Regions from separate parts of the Homo sapiens genome. Here regions 2, 3 and 4 are each reported to be linked to region 1. Evidence: microRNA targets listed by miRTarBase, many of them from high-throughput screens and not tested one by one. Region 1 holds a microRNA gene; each other region holds the end of a gene's coding sequence.
Evidence for each region. The annotated mature microRNA hsa-miR-196a-5p reads UAGGUAGUUUCAUGUUGUUGGG and lies in region 1 at 2,681-2,702, opposite strand. An mRNA with a match to its seed (bases 2 to 7 or 8) in the 3' UTR can be bound and repressed. Matches are read on the target gene's strand: a 7mer-m8 pairs with bases 2 to 8, a 7mer-A1 pairs with bases 2 to 7 and ends in A, and an 8mer does both.

Region 1 (5,072 bases):
TATAGACTCAACATGCGGTTGCCCGCCTCGCCGCCGGCCACAGCCCGGGAGCCCGCTCTGCTCTGTCTGCGGCCAAAGTCCATACACAATCCACCTTGCCGGTGCTCTCGCACCCTGCCCGAACACCCCTTCTGGCCACGCAGCCGTCCGGGCCACACTCGTGCTGCGGTCCAGCCCAGGACTTCGAACCTCGCCCCCTGCACGACCCACACAAAGCCCTGAGCCCTGGCGTTCCCACCCGAAGCCCCCAGTCCCCGCTGCCGCCGTCTTCTTCACCTGTTCTCGGGAAGGGCTGCATCTCCGAGCCGAAGTCAGGCCGTGGGCCGGGGCGAGGTCCCAGAGAGGCCACAGCGGATCTGCCAGGCTGAGCCGGAGCCCCAGCAGCCGACGAGAGATCTCAGAGACCAAGGCTCGCCTTGGCGAGCTCTTGCCTTTTCTTCCTCCCGCAAGTCTCAAACATTCATACACTGAGAGTTCAGCTCTATAAATCCTGCTCCTCTTTCCCATATCATAATTAAAAAAAAAACAGTAGGGGAGGTTTTAACTTTTATTGCGATTTCTGGAGTTGGGCTGCGGAGCATATATTAAGTTTACGCTTATGCGCTCTCGGCGGGGAGGGTCCTTTAAGAAATAAAAATCCATCTTAATATCCACAGACGAGAGAGATAATTTTTTCTCTTCTCTTCACGCTGTTCCTTCTGAAGACTCCCTTCCGGCGAAGGGAATAAATAATTACCATCGCCTTAGCCATGATCCACGGCCTTGTGCCGGGGGTGGACTCTGACCACCAGACTGGTCCTCACCTTGGCCCTATGAGACCTCGCTCCATTTCTCTGCATTTGGGGAGGAGACACCTCAACCCCTGGCTCTCTGACCTCCCACACATAAGCCCAACAGCTCTGAAACGGAAATGGGGGCACAGAGACCCAAAGCACAGAAGTCGTTCATTAGTGAATTTCGGCCCATCAGGGACTCTATCTCCAAGCCAAATGCTCCTGAGCACCCAGTCCCTGCCTGGGACACGCTTTGCCCCAACTGACTGTGTGCCTGGGGCAGCCTGAAGACTCAAAGGCTGCTAGGAGCTCCCAAACTAGGGGAATCCCTTGCCTGCTTCCCACCAGCTGGCCTGACTCTCTGGAAACTTCCCCATTTCCCTGGGAGCCATAGAGAGGTTTGAATACTTCTCTCCAAGAGAAGAAATTTTTTCTCTCACAAAGGGATGGGGGACAGACAGACCAACAATCCAGCTAGGGAGACAGGAAATTCTATTCCCATTTTCTCCTCCAGCTTCCTTGGGAGTCAAAACAAATATGTTCGCATAAGAGAGGGGAAAAATAAATGTGTATGCGTATAAATACATACAGGGTATTTAAGAGAGCCTAGGGGAGACAGAAACAGAGCCCTACACTCATACAAGGTCACATATATCCCTCCCAGCAGATGACTGTGAGAATATAGAACTCTGTATATATTTTGTTACAGGGACATAATTTTGTTTCCCTGTCTAGACGTTTATAATGTTTTAATAATCATAATAATTTCAAAGTAAGAGAACCAAGAACCTGACCTTCTTTTGGCTTCTCTTCCCCAGTATCTCTGAGAACAGGGGTGTATCTCCTCAGTCTCCATAACCCCTCCCCCATTTATTCCCCCCCCCCCAACTCCGCCCGCAGGCAGGCAAAGAAACCTCTTTTGAGAACTTTCTCTGTAGCAACCAGGGCCAGAATTGAAGAACCAAGGGGGAAAGGATGAGAGGAAGCTTTGCAAAGTTTCACACTGCTCAGATTTTCCTCTACCCCATTCTCCTCCCCTCCTCCCCCTGGCATCAGCCAACAACCTTTCCACCAACATAGCAATGGTGGGCACGGGCAGCCTCTGTTCACCCAGATGTTTCCACATAGTGCAAAGACAGGCAGCTGCCTGACAGTCACAGCCACAGAAACTGAGGCCTTCAGGCCACAGACGACTAAACAGAGACCAGAGTCAGGTTTTTGCCCTGATGTTTCCCAGTTGCGTGCGTGTGCGTGTGTGAGGGGTTCTACTTGGACTTTGATGGCTTTCCTCTAACCTACCAACACCCCAAACATGTCCTTCCCCTGGAGATGGAGCTATAGAAGGGGAAGGGGAAAGGGCTGGGCTGGCGCTCAGAGTTCCCCAACTCTTGGAACCTCCAGGTACCCCACTTTTCTAAGGAGAATCTTGAGCCCCAGTCGACTGGAGGTGGTAGGTGGGAGAGGCTAACCATTCCAGAGACCGTCTTCTCTTTCTGTGCTCCTCTTTCTGCTAATAATTCTGCCCCACCCTGCTGCCCAACTGAGCTGGCCCGCCAGGCCACCTCTTACTCAAACTCCTGAATTTCCTTGGAATTGGCTGGACCCTCTTTGTCTGTCTCCATCAGCTGGGCCCAGGAGACAATAGCTGCAGGAAAGACTCCTCTCCCTTAATCACAGGGATTGGGATAGGTTGAGAGGACGGCATAAAGCAGGGTTCTCCAGACTTGTTCTGCAACCCCACTCACAGCTTGTCCTCCTTGGTCTGCACCCACTTTGCCCTATCTGGGAGGGGGCAGTGGGGCAGTCCCACTGGGGAGGGTAGGAGTGGGAGAGGTGGGTTGGGGCCCTCGACGAAAACCGACTGATGTAACTCAGGCAGTTTCTTGTTGCCGAGTTCAAAACTCAATCCCAACAACATGAAACTACCTAAGCCACAGATCAGCTGAGCGAGCAGGGCGGGAGATTCAGCTTTGCATCTATCTGGAGGAGAAGGGAAGGGGGTTGGGGAAGGAAGAAATTCAGCCCCGTCCCCCTTTCCGCCCCCACAACCTCCCTAAGGACTAGAGAGTAGACTTTGGGTTGCTGGGTGGGTAAGGGGTCTGACTGCCTTCATTAGTTTCTGGTCTAAGCAAATTGCTCAGGAAAAATCTGGTGAAATGGGACCACTGGCGGCCAAATACCTGCCCCACCCCCAGCACCGCAGTGGAGCTATTCCCCTGCATCTGGCCCTGGCCCTGGGGGAAGCTGGATCTTCCTTCCACTCTGGAGCTGGGTCCCCTGTCTTGTCCATCTGGCTCTCCTGCACTCTCCTGCTAGACTCCCTCTGATCCTCTCCCTCTCAGCTCGGTTTAGGCTTCTCAGCGAATGTGGGTAGCTGAATCATAGCCCTGTGCTCTGGAGCCACTTCCAATCAGGCCACTTGCCTGGCAAAACGTTACAGCCAGGGAGCACAGGGAACAAGAGGCTGGACGAGGCTCACATCCAAACCAGCGAAAAGCAGGAAAACCTAAGCTTCAAGCTTCAACCCTCTGTACTCCTCCTCCCCCACCAACAGACGACCAGACTGAGCAACACCTAGACCAGAGTGTCGACTTCGAGGAGACCCAAAGTGCCCGAAAAGATAAAGAAGCCAAAAACCATCAATTTATCCCTTTAACTGTGGAACCCCCATGGCAATGGGCCCGGGAGGGAAGGAGAGGGAGCTCCCAGTCGCTGCCCTCCGCTGCCAGCGGCCACTAGGAAAGCCTGGGTTCTCGGCAAGCACGGATGCCCTAAACACCTTCCTCCAGGCTCTGTCCGCTGCACGCCGGACACCTGGGGACACCGCTCATCCCCACTCCGCCGCCAAGAGAAGAACAAGAAACCGCTTCTCTTACCTTGTCGCTGCCTCCTCCTCCTGCTGCTCCTGGCGTTTCTGTTAGCTGCTGTCGAGGTTGGGGGGGCTGAGCTCCTCATGCCCCTCCAGCGGTTAAGTTTATTCCTTTCCTTGGATGGGTGGGGGGCTCTTGGGGTGACCCCCAGCAGCAGTGGGGTGCGCCCAGCCCAGCACCCCAGGCAATCAGATCCGTCTGCTCCTCAAGATTGCAGCTTGCTCTCTGCCTCTTTCCCTCCTCCAGTCACCTTTAAATGCATCTTTTACTGCAGCACCACATTATATTTGCAGATCATAAAATCCACCTCTCGCGCGCACCAAGACCGTCCTGACATTACTGTTTTATGACCTTGACTTATTGTGGTCACCTGGATAATATTTAAATCAACGTTATGGTCTCTCACTTACATTAAACCCGCCAAGAGACGTTCTAGAAAGGCTCTAGGAGATGAGTCAAACACAAAACACACACATCCACACACTCAGCCTCTTCGGGGGAGGGGTGTTGCTAAAAATCACTAAAAACAAAAAACCATCCATTTGAGGATTATGATTCTGGAAATTTATTAGGTTTTTTTTTCTCCATTAAGGAAGCTACATGCAAAAGATACAACATACAGAATATCTTTAAATAACACAACTCCCAGACAGGGACAGGACAATATTTGGGGGGGGGGGCATTCTGTCTTTGCTTTGCTATGTTCTATTTTTAATTTTTTTGTTCCTCTGGATGAAATTTCTGAGATGTTACTAGATGGGGGATGTGGGGGTGCTAGGAGGGGTGGGAGAAAAGCAGAAAGCAGTACAAATACGAGACTTCAAGCAGATTCTTAGAGCGACTGGGAGGTAAAGACATGGAGAGGGTTTGGTGGAGGCTCTGGGTGCTACGACAAACACACGAACACTAGCCGAACTTTCCAAAACGTCTATTAGTCTAAGGAGGAAATGCAGCAAGGAAGGAACGATTCTGCCTGTGCTCTGCGAGATTACAGACCCTCTCTGGTTAATTTTTTTCCTTTTTTTCCCCTACAAGCGGATGGATTCGATCTTAACTTTGCATGGAGAACAGAATGCTGTGTGTGAGTGCGTGGGTGAGTGAGGGCTTGACACACACACCAGCCACACTCCCACCCCCATCTATGAGGGCACACACCACACCCCACATCCCGGCACCCCATTTCTCATGCTTTAAGTGGAAGCATCTTCGCAGCACGAACCACAGGTCCCTTGGAAGGAGAGTCTGAGGTCTTTGCCTTTTTTGCAGTCGCATTGCATTTATACTCAGGGAGGAAAAAAAAATATATCACCAGGCACAAAGGGAGGAGGGGCGGGGAGAGGAAGGAGCGGGAAGGGAGGAGGAGAGGCCGCGCTCTCAGGTGAAATTAAAATTGGAGGTCAGTTCCCGGATCCGATTCTCTCGGTTCATT
Region 2 (5,072 bases), not on the chromosome of region 1:
CAGGAGCACATTCCTTTCCCTCCGACGCTCTTCAGAATTGTCCGCTTGGCTCGGATTGGCCGAATCCTGAGGCTTGTCCGGGCTGCACGAGGAATCAGGACTCTCCTCTTTGCTCTGATGATGTCGCTTCCTTCTCTGTTCAACATTGGTCTTCTACTCTTTCTGATTATGTTTATCTATGCCATTCTGGGTATGAACTGGTTTTCCAAAGTGAATCCAGAGTCTGGAATCGATGACATATTCAACTTCAAGACTTTTGCCAGCAGCATGCTCTGTCTCTTCCAGATAAGCACATCAGCAGGTTGGGATTCCCTGCTCAGCCCCATGCTGCGATCAAAAGAATCATGTAACTCTTCCTCAGAAAACTGCCACCTCCCTGGCATAGCCACATCCTACTTTGTCAGTTACATTATCATCTCCTTTCTCATTGTTGTCAACATGTACATTGCTGTGATTTTAGAGAACTTCAATACAGCCACTGAAGAAAGTGAGGACCCTTTGGGTGAAGATGACTTTGACATATTTTATGAAGTGTGGGAAAAGTTTGACCCAGAAGCAACACAATTTATCAAATATTCTGCCCTTTCTGACTTTGCTGATGCCTTGCCTGAGCCTTTGCGTGTCGCAAAGCCAAATAAATATCAATTTCTAGTAATGGACTTGCCCATGGTGAGTGAAGATCGCCTCCACTGCATGGATATTCTTTTCGCCTTCACCGCTAGGGTACTCGGTGGCTCTGATGGCCTAGATAGTATGAAAGCAATGATGGAAGAGAAGTTCATGGAAGCCAATCCTCTCAAGAAGTTGTATGAACCCATAGTCACCACCACCAAGAGAAAGGAAGAGGAAAGAGGTGCTGCTATTATTCAAAAGGCCTTTCGAAAGTACATGATGAAGGTGACCAAGGGTGACCAAGGTGACCAAAATGACTTGGAAAACGGGCCTCATTCACCACTCCAGACTCTTTGCAATGGAGACTTGTCTAGCTTTGGGGTGGCCAAGGGCAAGGTCCACTGTGACTGAGCCCTCACCTCCACGCCTACCTCATAGCTTCACAGCCTTGCCTTCAGCCTCTGAGCTCCAGGGGTCAGCAGCTTAGTGTATCAACAGGGAGTGGATTCACCAAATTAGCCATTCCATTTTCTTTTCTGGCTAAAATAAATGATATTTCAATTTCATTTTAAATAATACTTACAGAGATATAAGATAAGGCTACTTGACAACCAGTGGTACTATTATAATAAGGAAGAAGACACCAGGAAGGACTGTAAAAGGACATACCAATTTTAGGATTGAAATAGTTCAGGCCGGGCGCAGTGGCTCATGCCTGTAATCCCAGCACTTTGAGAGGCCAAGGCAGGTGGATCACGAGGTCAAGAGATCGAGACCATCCTGGCCAACATGATGAAACTCCGTCTCTACTAAAAATACAAAAATTAGCTGGGCATGGTGGCGTGCGCCTGTAGTCCCAGCTACTTGGGAGGCTGAGGCAGGAGAATCGCTTAAACCTGGGAGACGGAGGTTGCAGTGAGCCAAGATCGTGCCACTGCACTCCAGCCTGGTGACAGAGTGAGACTCTGTTTCAAAAAAGAAAAGAAAAGAAACATGGTTCAAATTATATCTAAACAAAAAAGAATAAGAAACAAAAAACACATTAAAATTTTAAGTTGTATTTTCTATGTTTCTAGATACATCATTTTTGTTTGATATTTTCCTGATGCAAGTATGTGGTTTATCACATGTAGCTCTTTTGCATGCTAAATGAAAATTCAAAACTTGCCAATAAATGAATAGCTTATTGCAGACATTTTTTACCAACATTAATTATTTTGGGTTTGTTTAAAACCTAGAGGCACAATCTTGACTTGTCAATTACTACCCTTTCACAAGCTACCATCTCAGATATATATATATATATAAATTCAATAAAGCTTTCTGTTTGTGTTCCTTTCAGGTAGTACACTAATATTCCCCTTTTGTTCAGTGGTTGTGTGAGTAGTGGTTTAAATGTGGTGCTTTGCTTGCAATTAAAGACTAGAACCAGTGGTGTATCTGACAAGTGTTTAACAACTGACTGTTCAGGAAAAAGAAAGCCATGCTTTATAGCATTCACTAATCTCTGTGGTGTGAGTACTCCCATTATGGCTGATTTCAAGCTATCAACATGTTACTGGACGTGGAGTTGAGAAGAGATGCTCATAATAAGTTCTTGAGAGCTGGCTCAAGCTGACTGCAGCACATCACTTGCTGAAACTGAAAAGAGAGCCCCACTTGGCTGGTTAAGATATTTGCAGTGGGCACCTTGGACAGAGAGAGTACCCTCTTAGCAACACGTGGGGCACGGGGTGAGAGATCCATAGACATACTGCTTAACCAGTGATCTTAGCCATTTGATGAGCCCTATTTACAGTTTTGGCTGAATGTCTGTTTCAAAGAAACACCCAGACCTATCAAAAGGGCTTGGGAGCAGGAGGAGCCCAGGAGTTCCCTAAAAACTGGAGATGCCAAGAGGTCAAACAGGCATTAGGCTTTCAGTCCCCCAAAAGGCTGGGCGAGGGGCAAAGAACCTACATTGTGATCATTGAGGAGTGGAGGAAAACCTCATAGAGATAGCCCTGGAACCCTGTATCTCAGACAGGTGAGAAGAACTGATGTGTCTGTCAGCAGCCTGGAGTCTGAGGTCGGGCCCTCTGACCTGCCCCACACTGCCCAGCAAAGGGAATGGCAGCACTGGATCCTGTGGTGGGCTGAGAGGTGATTATTTTCAGTGTGTAAGATCTTACCATGACTTGATGTATTCATTTCAAGGGCCTGAGTTTTGTAGGCAGCCTTGTGCTCTGAAGCATTGGTAAAAATAGTGATAATATCATTATCTAATATTTATTTAGTGGTTTCTGTGCATCAGGCACTGGCTAAGCATTTGTCATGAATGATCTCTTTTGTACCTCGTACCAACCCAATGAGGAAGATATACCCCATTTAAAAAGGAGAAAACTGAGGCTCAGAGAAGTTGAGTGACCTGCATACAGTCATGCACCTGGTGGAGCCCGAGCCTGTGTGCCATGATGGGAAGGGGAAGTGGGTGGGCTCAGGACCAGGGAAGCTTTGAGATGGGCTACCAGGGCTCCTGTGCAGGACTGGGAGGGCCTTGTGGAAATCACTAGTTACAAAGTCATGGCCACATTCTCCTTGAGGTACTGGAAGTAACCTATGGCTCCTTTAAAAGAAGCTCTGATTATGAACCTTAGGTGTTTTATAGATTCCCTATCAAGTTTCTAAAAAAAAAAAAAAGATGGCTCGTCATCATTTCAAGAAGGGTACCTTTTGGCTAGAGGTAGGGGGAGGATCTGGAAGGACATGGTCTTGCCCATTCCAGACTGCCATGCAGGAGCTTGAATGTGATCTGTTTTGTATAGAAGCTTCACCCTCAGAATATGTGGAACAAAATAAAAATAATAATAAAACAGGCTTCACCCTCCTCCCTTCCATGCACACCTGTATACCCTGACATGCTTCTGTTTAACCAGGGCTGGTTTCCAGGGGCCACCTCCTAGGGAGAAAACAAGATCTGCTTAGCTTTATCAAAAGGTTGGACCACTCTACCTTCACTAGATGGCAGCAAATGTCCAACATGTTCTTTTCGGAGAGGGCTGCACATCATCTGTACACAGGCCTGGCACTTAGAAAGCCATAGGGTTGAAGGGAGAAGAGCCCAGGCAGGATATGGTGAATTATCTAAACCCTGGATGGGTGATAGAAAGCTCATAGTAATATCCCTAGAAATATTGCTCACTGCGAGAGGATCCAGGACACCCTCAGGAGGCAGAGATGTTGGTGTGAGCTCTGTTTCCCTGGGACATACTGAGTTTCCACTGCAAACAGCCCTCCAGGCACATGAATCCAGTCCCCTTATTCTCTGAGTTTTCTTTACTCTAGGTAGATCAGCCCCCGTGCAATTCATCTGGCAGACATGTTCCAAGGATGAATGCAGTGTATTTTGTGTAAACTGCTTCTAACCAAATAGACTATAGGACTATAGTCTCAAGAGCATATTTGCTCTTTGGCAGGAGAATTGGATGAGTGTCCATGCAATAATAATGCAATACAACATAACAAGTGTAATAAACCAGAAACATGCCTCTGCTCTGAGGACATGAATGAAGCAAGCTCACAGAAAGACCTCCTGAGAGAGGAGCATCTGAGATGGATGCGCTTGACAGGTATGTAGGATTTTGACAGGTGAACCTGGTTTTGGAGGGTGTTTGAAGTCGGGGAGACAGTACAGGCAGCTCAATGGCAACTAGAAAGTGTGAGGAAGTATGAATTACCCAACTGACTGGACATGGAGTATAGGGAGTGGAGCAGCAGCAACTGAATCTTAGACACAGACATTTGTGGAGAGCCTCAAATGCCAGAGTGAGGAGTTCTAGCGTATTTTGATAATAAGAAGGCATTGAAGGTGTTTTAGCAGGGAAGAAAAATAACTGGATAGAATGTGCAAGGTGGAATGGAGAAAAACAAGGTCTGATCCTGGTAGGGAAGAGGCACTGAGCCAGGAAGGAGGTGAGGGCAATGCGGTGTGATTCCAAGATGCTTGTGCCAGCTGCCTGACCATGAGGGAGGACAAGATAGATGACAGTAAAGGGTACTAAGTTAATAGCATAGGAGGAGCAAGGGTTGGAGTTTGTTTGTTTGTTTTAATGGCTGAGGAAGAACATCTAAAATGTAATTCAATTTTAAATATTTTGAAAGTTTAAGATGTCAGGTCTAACTGACAATGCCCAGCCAAGACTTGAACTTGAGGACAAGGTGTGGACAGGAGTCTTCGGTGCAAAGGTGATGTCTGAAACCCCAGGAGCAGACATCATGGGAGAGAGAGAGTACACCCAGCTCTAGAAGCAGGCAAGGGACTTGCCCTGAGGGTATGTTTTCAGGGAATGAAGGTGAAGAGGAGTGAGACAGTTCAGAGAAGAATGTGGGGTAGTAGGTGACAGTAAATACCATGACATGTAATGTGAGAACAGAGCAGGCTTCCTTGGAGAAATTGGGTCAACAAGATGAGATACACAGTC
Region 3 (5,072 bases), not on the chromosome of region 1:
AGGCCGGCCCCTTGGAGCTCATTCTTTTCTCCCCGGCCCAGACTCCGACGGCAGCGAGTTCCAGGACGATCCCGTGCTGCAGGTGCTAAGAGCCCATAGGGCAGAGCTGAGTCGGCAGAAAAGGTGACCGACCCTCCATCCCCAGAGTCTATGACACTGGGCCCCGGAGACCTCTGAGACCCGGTTAGGCATCCAGCCCTCCTCATCCCCTGTCCCAGCAGTCCGTCCACAGCCCCAGATTCTAAGCCTGAGCACATACCCCAGCCTCTGCTCTCCCGGCCTTTCTCCAGGGAAGCGGATGCCCGATTATCGTTCCTGTTGGACCAGGCTGAAGACCTGGGATCTTGGTCCCCTCCAGCCGGGTCGCCCCCTAGGTCCCCAAGGAGGCTGCTAAGAAGGGAAGGAGATTCCCTGGAGGCCAGAAGACTTTGAATTGTACAGATTCTATTTTACCCAGTGAGGCTCTTTTTTTTTTTTTCATACAGTTACTGGTTATCTGTGAGAAAGGGGTTGTTTGGAAAGGCCAAGGGGTCATGCCAATTTAAGGAAATGCCCCCCATCCTCCGCTGCCCCATGGCTCTGCCCTGCCCCCCACCCCTTCCTGACCACGGAAACAAGATCTCCTTTCTGGTTATATCTTCCTTGGGGCAGAGGGAGTTTCAGACAAGACTTCTGGCAAGACTGGGACCCACCTTATCTGGCTTCACTCAGGAGCCCTGGCTCAAATGGACCAAAGGACTGCCCTCCACGGAGGAAGCTACTAGGGTCATCAGAGTGTTGGATGATGGTCAGGCTATAGCCCACACATGCTTGAGCAGCAGCAGCATCTGGTGCAGCTGACCCCTCCCTCCTTGAAGCACTTTCTCTCCCTGCTTCCAGCCCTTCTCTCTGCACCTCTCTGGTCAGGCCTAGTCACTAGCCCAGCATGTCAACTTTGGCATGACCCAGGGCCATGGCGTTGACATCTCTATCTGCACCCACCCATAGGTGCTCTTGTCTAGCTTAATGACTCTAAACCCCGTCTCTATTCTGATAATCCTCAAATTTCTGTCTGTAACCTAGACCTGGCCACGAAACCTTGGGCTCCTACCTCATTACCATTTCTACCCAAGGGTTTAAAAGACATCTCAAATTCCATAGGTCCTAAATGGAGTTTCCAATCTTTCCCCCTAGGCGTGCCTCTCCCCAGCTTCTTTTTTTTTTTTTTTTTGGATGGAGTCTAGCTCTGTCACCCAGGCTGGAGTGCCATAGTGTGATCTCGGCTCACTGCAAGCTTCGCCTCCCGGGTTCACGCCATTCTCCTGCCTCAGCCTCCCGAGTAGCTGGGACTACAGGTGCCCGCCACCACGGTCGGCTAATTTTTTTTGTATTTTTAGTAGAGACGGGGTTTCACTGTGTTAGCCAGGATGGTCTTGGTCTCCTGACCTCGTGATCCACCCGCCTCGGCCTCCCAAAGTGCTGGGATTGCAGGCGTGAGCCACCGTGCTGGGCCCCCCCTCCCCAACTTTCTTCGGCTCTGTCCTTTGCCGCTCAGACCAAAAACCTTAGAGTTGTCTTTGACTTCTGTCTTTCCCTTCCACCCACAGTTAACCAGGAAATCCTGCCATCTCCGCCTTTATTTTATTTTATTTTTTGAGATGGAGTTTCACCCTTGTTGCCCAGGCTGTAGTACAATGGCATGATCTCGGCTCACGGCAACCTCCACCTCCCGGGTTCAAGCGATTCTCCTGCCTCAGCCTTCTGAGTAGCTGGGATTACAGGCACCTGCCACCACGCCCAGCTAATTTTCTTTGTTTGTTTGTTTGTTTTGAGACAGAGTCTTGCTCTGTCCCCCAGGCTGGAGGGCAGTGGCACGATCTCGGCTCACTGCAACCTCTGCCTTGCAGGTTCAAGCTATTCTTCTGCCTCAGCCTCCCTAGTAGCTGGGACTACAGGCGTGTGCCACCACGCCTGGCTAATTTTTGTATTTTTAGTAGAGACGGGGTTTCACCATATTGGCCAGGCTGGTCTCAAACTCATGACCTCGTGATCCTCCTGCCTCAGCCTCCCAAAGCGCTGGGATTACAGGCATGAGCCATCATGCCTGGCAATTTTTTGTATTTTTAGTAGAGACGAGGTTTCACCATGTTGGCCAGGCTGGTCTCGAACTCCTAACCTCAGGTGTCCCACCCACCTCAGCCTCCCAAAGTGCTAGGATTACAGATGTGAGCCACCGCACCTGGCCTCCACCTTTAAAATCTATCCAGAATTCAACTGCTTCTCCCCTTCTACTGCTCACACCTCAATCTAGGCTGTCATCACCTCCTCTCTGGACTGTTGGAAAACTTAACGGTTTTTATAAACCTGATATTCTTTGACACACTTGCCATCAAGAGGCAGAGTCTATGTCCCTTCATCTTGAAACTGGGCCCCTCAACAAATAAAATGCAGAGGAAGTGATGCAGCTTAACTTCTAAAGTGCAGTTAGAAAAGATGATTTCTCAGCTGGGCATGGTGGCTCACGCCTGTAATCCCAGCACTTTGGGAGGCTCAGGTGGGCAGATTACTTGAGGTCAGGGGTTCAAGACCAGCCTGGCCAACATGGTGAAATGTCTCTACTAAAAATACAAAAATTGGCCAGGCATTGGTGGTGGGTGCCTGTAATCCCAGCTACTCAGGAGGCTGAGGCAAGAGAATTGCTTGAACTCAGAAGGCAGAGGTTGCAGTGGAAAAAAAAAAAAAGATAATTTCTCTCTCTTTCTCTCTCTCTCTGACACTTGCTTTAGAGGCTACATTAAAAAAAAAAACTAGTTGCCATGCTGGGGAGGGGTTTGGGTTACACAGGTGTATGCACTTATGAAACTTAGTGAAGTGTGTGAATTTCATTGTATGTAAAGTTTACCTCAAAAGAAAATATTGAACGCCAGTTAAAGATACGCCTGTAATCTGACTTCTTTGGGAGGCCAAGGCGGGAGGATCACTTGAGGCCAGGAGTTTGAGACTACCCTGGGCAACACAGCAAGACCTGTCTCTACAAAAATAAATAAGTAAATAAATAGCCAGATGTGGTGGCACACGATTTGCAGTCCCATTACTAGGGGCGGGGAGGGGCGCTGAGGCAGGAGGTTTACTTGAGCCCAGGAGTTCAAGGCTGTATTGTAGTGAACTAAGATCATGCCACTGCACTCCAGCCTGGGCTACAGAGCTAGACCCTGTCTTTAAAAAAAAGAAAAGAAAAAAAAAAGTATGTACACTGAAATATTTAGGGAACAATAAACCAATGTCGACAATTTATTTTGAAATGCATCCAGAGATGAGTTGGATTGATGGATAAATAGTGTAATAGGTAGATGTGAGATAAAGCAAATACAGCAAAGTGTTCATGGTAGGATCTAAGTGGCGGATATGCGGGTGTCCACTGTAAAATTTTTCAACTTTGCTGTAATTTAGAAACTTTTCATGGCCGGGCGCGGTGACTCATGCCTGTAATCCCAGCACTTTGGGAGGCCAAGGCGGGCGGATCACGAGGTCAGGAGATCGAGACCATCCTGGCTAACACGGTGAAACCCCGTCTCTACTAAAAATACAAAAAATTAGCCGGGCGTGGTGGCGGGCGCCTGTAGCCCCAGCTACTCGGAAGGCTGAGGCAGGAGAATCACTTGAACCTGGGAGGCAGAGCTTGCAGTGAGCCGAGATTGCGCCACTGCACTCCAGCCTGGGTGACAGAGCGAGACTCCGTCTCAGAAAAGAAACTTTTCATAATAAAATGATGGAGAATATATGATTGGGGTTGTTTTGATATCTGCATTTACAAAATGGAGGGATAAGATGGATTTCTAGTAACTTCTGTATGTCACATGGTAAATATAATATTTGTTTTCAACCTTTCTTTCTTTCTTTTTTTTTTTTTTTTTTTTTGAGATGGAGTCTTGCTCTGTCACCCAGGCTGGAGTGTAGTGGTGCAACCTCGGCTCACTGTAACCTCTGCCTTCCAGGTTCAAGTGATTCTCCTTCCTCAGCTTTCCGAGTAGTTGAGATTATAGGTGCATGCCACCTCACCTGGCTAATTTGTGTGTGTGTGTGTGTTTTTAGTAGAGACAGGGTTTCACCATGTTGGTCTGGCTGGTCTCGAACTCCTGACCTCATGATCCACCTGCCCCGGCCTCCCAAAGTGCTGGGATTACAGGTGTGAGGCACCGCACCCGGCCTGTTTCTAACCTTTCTAAGCAAACCATACATTTAAATGAAATCAGAGTGGGCACAGTGGCACAGGCCTGTAATCTCAGCACTTTGGGAGGCCAAGGCGAGCAGATCACTTGAGGTCACGAGTTAGAGACCAGCCTGGGCAATATAGTGAAACTCTGTCTCCACTAAAAATTAGCTGGGCCTGGTGGCGGGTGCCTGTAGTCCCAGGTGCTCAGGAGGCTGAGGCAGGAGAATTGCTTGAACATGGGAGGCGGAGGCTGCAGTGAGTTGAGATGGTGCCACTGCACTTCAGCCTGGGCAACAGAGTGAGACTCCATCTCAAAAACAAACAAACTAACAAAAAAATGTAATTGACAAGAAAAATAGCTGTTTAGATATAAGGAGAAATAAAAGATACTATAGTAGCAGAACCTGATCTAGCTGGGTCACGGGTGGGGTCTAGAAGCATTCCTGAGGAAGTTACACTTAAGCTGAGACAGGTAGAAATTATCTAGTTAACAAAGGGCTGTCCTAATTACTCTAGTTGGATAACCGCTCCCAAAACTTAGTGGCATAAAACAATTATTTTATTATGCTCATGGATTCTGAGAGTCAGAGGTTTGGACAGGGCTCATATGGGGACAATTTTTGTCTCCTCCATGATGTCTGGGGATTCACCTGGAAAGACTCAAAGGTGACTTGATAGACTTGATGGCTGTGGAGTAGAATCCTCCAGAACTTCTTCCGTGGTCTTCTCCCAGTCTGACTGGGACTATTGACTAATGCCTATACATAGCTCCATTGGCCTGGGCTTCCTCAAAGCATGTCTGCTTCAGCATAGTCACACTTCGCATATGATGCACCATGGTTCTACAGCTCATTCCAGTGGACGAGAACATTGGTCAAGA
Region 4 (5,072 bases), not on the chromosome of region 1:
CTCATTTACATATACCTGCCAAGTTATTTTATGTATAAATATATACTATATATAATTATTTTATGTTAAATATTTAATACTTATATTAAAATATTAATTTTAAATATATATATAATAGCAATTATATATATTTACATTAATATATCTATCCATTATATATACATATATATCTTTTACATATATATTTACATTTATCTATCTCTATTATTGTACATATAAGTTAGTAACCCCTGATGCCTAATCACTGGGCCCTGGGCATCTATGCCCTCTATAGGTTAAGACCCAAAATCCTTGGTCTGATTACTAAGTTTTATATAGCAACCGCCTTTGAAGTGCCTACCTATTTTTAAGGGAAACTAAATTATATATCCTTTAATTTAGACATTAACAAAATGTGGATTGTCATGAATTAATAGCAATAAAGAAATAACAAATATATCTAGACACTGCAGGAACAAAACGAATTAAGCATTCATGTTCAGACTTTTTACTGTTGAAGAAAAAAAGTGCATTTTCATCATAAAATCATTTTCAAGTGCCAGGGTTTTAAAACAACAGTTTCCAACTGTTGAACTAAAACTTACTTACTCTGATAAATCATCTGATTTCTAAAAAGCTAATTTTCTTTGTAAGAAATAAATACAGTTTTATGGAAACAAACACTACGTTCTTTTATATATTTAGATTTGTTTGTTTTTTTCCAAATAAATAACACAATGTGAGAGTCAAAGAAATTAGGCAAATAGTAACGAGTATGTGATAGTGTTGGAATTTAATCACAGGTTTACTTAACTTGGATTCCATTGTCTTTTATAGAGAAAAAGCATATTTATGAAATTAGTATTTTAATATTGTTTGCAACTAATACTGTATGAGTTTATGGTTTCTGGCATATCAAGATGAACAAATATAACAAAAGTACATTTAATGGCTACATCTTTAAGTGTATGAATATAGAGGTCTTTAATGACTAGTTAAATCCAGAAAAAAGAGAGTCAACATTCTTCCTCTATAATATAAGGATGGGTCTTCCCTTCAAATGCAGCCTTCTTTACTTTCCCACTTAAGCACGAAATGGTGCCGCATATAATTTTTAAAATCAATAAATCACAGTTGTATTAAGAAATATTTTATTAACAAAACAGTAAATTCCACTTGCTTAGCATTTCCAATAATGGATAAATTGGCCTTGCAACAGAAAAACAAACAAACAAAAAAAGAAGAAGAAAACCCCTTTGATACCCAATCACACAAAGCACTAGAAGGGTAGGGTTATGTGGCCTTTCTTTGATGTCTTAGGGATTGACCACTTCACACGTTATTGTAGTATTTGTTCTTTTAAAAAAGGCAACACATTACATGGATAAAAAAGAAGCATAATCAATCAGAAAAGTTACAGTCTAGAGATGTAATCAAATTTATGCCAAGTCGTGTGAAATCCTCAATCAACTGCAAACTATGCAGGGAACCCTGATATGTTTGGTATGAAGATACTTGGGATTCAAGTCATTTTCTCTTTCTAACTCTGTTCCTCTCTTTTCTTTTTCCATTGAGGAAAAAATAATTTTTGCTAGAGTTTGTGTAAGCCAATAATATTAGAAATAATTTTGCTGATAATAAACTATATCAATCATTGCATGTAACTTTAAAATTTACGCTGGGGAGAAACATTGAAATCAATCCCAAACAACACATTTCATAGATATACTGCTTAAAATTACCATTATTCAATTTATTTTCTATTATATTTTAGAATCTTTCCAGATGGAAACTGGTTCAAGCTTAATAGATAAAATAGAAAAGCAATCTTAAAAAAAAAAACCCTTCAAGCTGTAAATTAGTAGTTTTACACTTCCCTTCTTATTTAACTGGCTTTCCCTGAGTAAGACTGAATGAGACGGGGGAAAAGAAAAGACTCGTGAATTATTTAATGTGGCAAATTAAAAAAAATGAAAATCTAGAAAAGAAGCAATGGATATTAAATTTTCATTTTATACCTTCTACTTTCTGGGTCATAAAAAGCCACTAAATTTCTTTGTACACAACAATTACTTGGCAACCATAGATAGTGGTGATTTGCTATGAATTATACATATTTCTAAGGTGCTGTATGTCTGAAATCCAGGCCACTTCTTGGCTTTTTTTTCATCAACTAAAGTATCACAAAAGATGTTTTGCATTTTTTGCCTTTGCTGATTAAAGCTAATTGGAAAGATATTCTTCTCTTCTACAAAATTTTTTATCGTTCTTTTAGAAGGTATTCAAGTAATGCAACCAATTTTTCCTGAAACATCAACTTGCAATGTAATAATGCATTTTTTGCACTACCTTCTCATATTAGTAATTTATTGCTGTGAACATCATTGAATAATATGCAAAACAAGTGTATAATCTATACTTTTCCACTACTTAATGTGTTAAACTAAAACTATATTTAATGATATATATGTAAAACCAGAAAAGTTAAAACATAGTCAATAATTAACAGAGAATGATTTTTTAAGTGGGTAGTAATACAGAATCAAAAATTACTGAAAAATACTTTCTTAGTCGAGAGAAAGTGTTTACTTTCCAGAAATGTTCATCATGCACATCAGATTCAGAGATATATATATTATTTTATTAGAAAGAAAGTTTTCAATTGCAGCAGCCAGAGTTAAGGTGTAGATTAACCAATTTTGCTTCCATAACCTGCCCACATAATGGTTCTTATTCATGCAGCAGTATATCAGTGATATTCTATTTGATAAGGAAAGGTTCATTTCTTTAGGGACTAAAATCTTCTTAAGGTTACCTGGGAGCAAGATCTCAATGAAGCAAATCACCCCATTTGTCATCAATACCTTGGCACAACCCTCTTCCTTCCTGCTTTTCAATTTGTCAATAAATATTTGCTACTGTATGCACGTTTGGATCTTCCAGCATATCTGATGGATTGCTGTGGATTCGTGTGTGTGTGTGTGTGTGTGTGTGTGTGTGTGTGTGTGTGTGTGTGAAAATAGTGAATGTATGTGGGAATGTGAGTATTTCAGGGAGAAAAGATTATAAGATACATATGTATATATGTGACTTTCTAATTCACACCTTTCATACAAGTACTAAAACTTAATTGCAACAGAATGAAGGCTGTACATATAAGAAAAGAAGTAGCTGAGTCTTTGTATATACATTCATACATATCTTCCTTAGAATAAACACTACACTGTAATTTCTTTAAAAAATAAAAGTAATTGTGGCAATTTATAATGGTGGCAAAAAAAAAGAAAAACCCAACTGAAATAATTGTTGCTCTGATGTCATAAAACTCCCTATACTTAGCAACACTTATAACATTGAATTTACCAAAAATGGCTGAAGAGCAGAGATATATTTTGCATTTTCTATACAACAGGCTATAAAACGTCACTTATCACAGTCCAGAAAGCACACAGAGATGGATTTTATATAAACATATGTAATAACATAATAAGCGTGCATGAAAATTTCCCAATGATTGCATCTATGCCCTCTTGTTTTTGTTTTGAAATTTTGTGTGAAAACGTGCCTTATATTTCACATTTTTGAAAATAAGGCCTCCATACTTTTTTTTCCTCTCTCACAACCAGAAAGGGGCTTTTTGAATGTGTTCCTACACAAGTCTTCAAAAAAGCCAGCACTTTGTTTCAAATGCAAGTTCCAACCACTGCTCCAGTTGCACCAGGCGGCAAACTCTTAAAGGTTTGCAGGTTGAGTCACTCAAAAGGACAGTCTTCTCTGGCAATTGGACTGACTTCTCAGGAAAGCGCTAGCACTTTGGCTAAATCCAGGATCATAGGTAGCTTCTTTTTTGTGTTATGTTTTGTGTTGGTTTTTGTGTTGTGCCTTGATGCTGTAGTACTCCTTTGCTTTATGAATGCGTGCGGTCATCACTGTCTTTTAGAAATGTTCCAGCAACATAAAGACAAGCAGAGTAAATGAAAACACTGTGGATGTTAGGGAATTTATTGGCCCCTGTTTTTTGTTTTTTGTTTTTCTTTTTTGAGAAACAAGAGCATGAGATACTTGTTTTTATTTTTTAAAAAGTCTTTCCTTCCTGATTGCATTCCCTGTCTTCTTTTGTATGTGCTTCATAAAAAGGAAAGTAAATAAGTTTATATTATGTCTCAGATAAAATGAAGACTATTTCTATACAAGTGTCCATTTAAGATCTTGGGATCAGACATAATACTCTTTATCCTTGTTTTTCTTATTTTTGTTGGAGCTTTTCGCACTGCTGGGTTGTTTCTCCTTTACAACAGCCCCATTGGACTGTGCTGAGTTACTGATGTAGTTTCGACTCTCGTCCACATGGTATGAGCCTTCATCCCGGTTTCTGTACTTGTACATGGCATAGAGGAGGATAAGGATGCACAGGGCGGCAGCGGCTACTATCCCAACGACCATACCCGTGGTGCTGCTGGACTCCCGGATCACTTCTGCTGAGCCTGGATACGGCTCTCTGCCGCCTGCTCGGGTTGGGTTGGCTATAGAAAAGAGGATGAGAACAAACACAAAGTGATCATTGAGTTCACTGAATACCAGAGAGCTATATTAACATTTATTATCTAATTCTAACAGCACCTATGCTTTAGGAAAGGTATGCTATTGATAAATGTAGCCATCCCTTTGCCTCATGGTTACTAAAAACTAGGGACTGTGATTTAAAGTTCTCTGGGAGATTTGTTGCTGTGTCTTCTTTCTTCACAAATCAATTTTGTTCACAGAGTTTGGTAAGCATTGTCCCAAATAAACTCCAATTAGCTCTAAAGGGCCATGTGGGTGACTTAAGTAAAAAAAACCCACAAACCCAGCATAAAGAAAAGCAGAACAGCCCTACCCTATAATACTAGAGGGAATCATAAGAATCAAATAGGTGTTGCTCTAGAACATAGGTCTAACTCTAGACTGAATCAGGACAACTAAATTTAGGATTACTTTAGAAATCATATTCCCCTTGTATTTTAAAGAATACAGTATTGAACAATAAGATAATCCATACATTTTAACTGTCTGCTTTTTAAAGTATAACTTTAGTTACATTTTTATAAATAAAA

Region 2: miRTarBase lists SCN11A as a target of hsa-miR-196a-5p. The part of its 3' UTR that is shown has no 7-base or 8-base seed match.
Region 3: the mRNA of PROSER3 is a reported target of hsa-miR-196a-5p. The part of its 3' UTR that is shown has no 7-base or 8-base seed match.
Region 4: the mRNA of NRXN1 is a reported target of hsa-miR-196a-5p. Seed matches in the 3' UTR shown: 7mer-A1 at 3,812-3,818.

Annotation. Positions count from the first base shown.
Region 1 is chr12:53,989,392-53,994,463 of GRCh38, reverse strand. MIR196A2 (microRNA 196a-2) reads right to left here and starts at 2,726; the gene lies at 2,617-2,726. HOXC10 (homeobox C10) reads right to left here. Exons shown (of 2, transcript NM_017409.4): 2 at 4,185-5,072. The coding sequence ends at 5,018.
Region 2 is chr3:38,842,645-38,847,716 of GRCh38, reverse strand. SCN11A (sodium voltage-gated channel alpha subunit 11) reads left to right here. Exons shown (of 30, transcript NM_001349253.2): 30 at 1-1,953. The coding sequence ends at 1,023. Among named protein-coding and RNA genes, the nearest start is that of SCN10A, 29 kb to the right of the region's middle.
Region 3 is chr19:35,768,114-35,773,185 of GRCh38, forward strand. It overlaps PROSER3 (proline and serine rich 3), which reads left to right. Exons shown (of 11, transcript NM_001367856.1): 10 at 42-123; 11 at 291-3,053. The coding sequence ends at 432. Among named protein-coding and RNA genes, the nearest start is that of ARHGAP33, 4.9 kb to the right of the region's middle.
Region 4 is chr2:49,917,750-49,922,821 of GRCh38, forward strand. NRXN1 (neurexin 1) reads right to left here. Exons shown (of 23, transcript NM_001330078.2): 23 at 754-4,502. The coding sequence ends at 4,195. Among named protein-coding and RNA genes, the nearest start is that of FSHR, 770 kb to the left of the region's middle.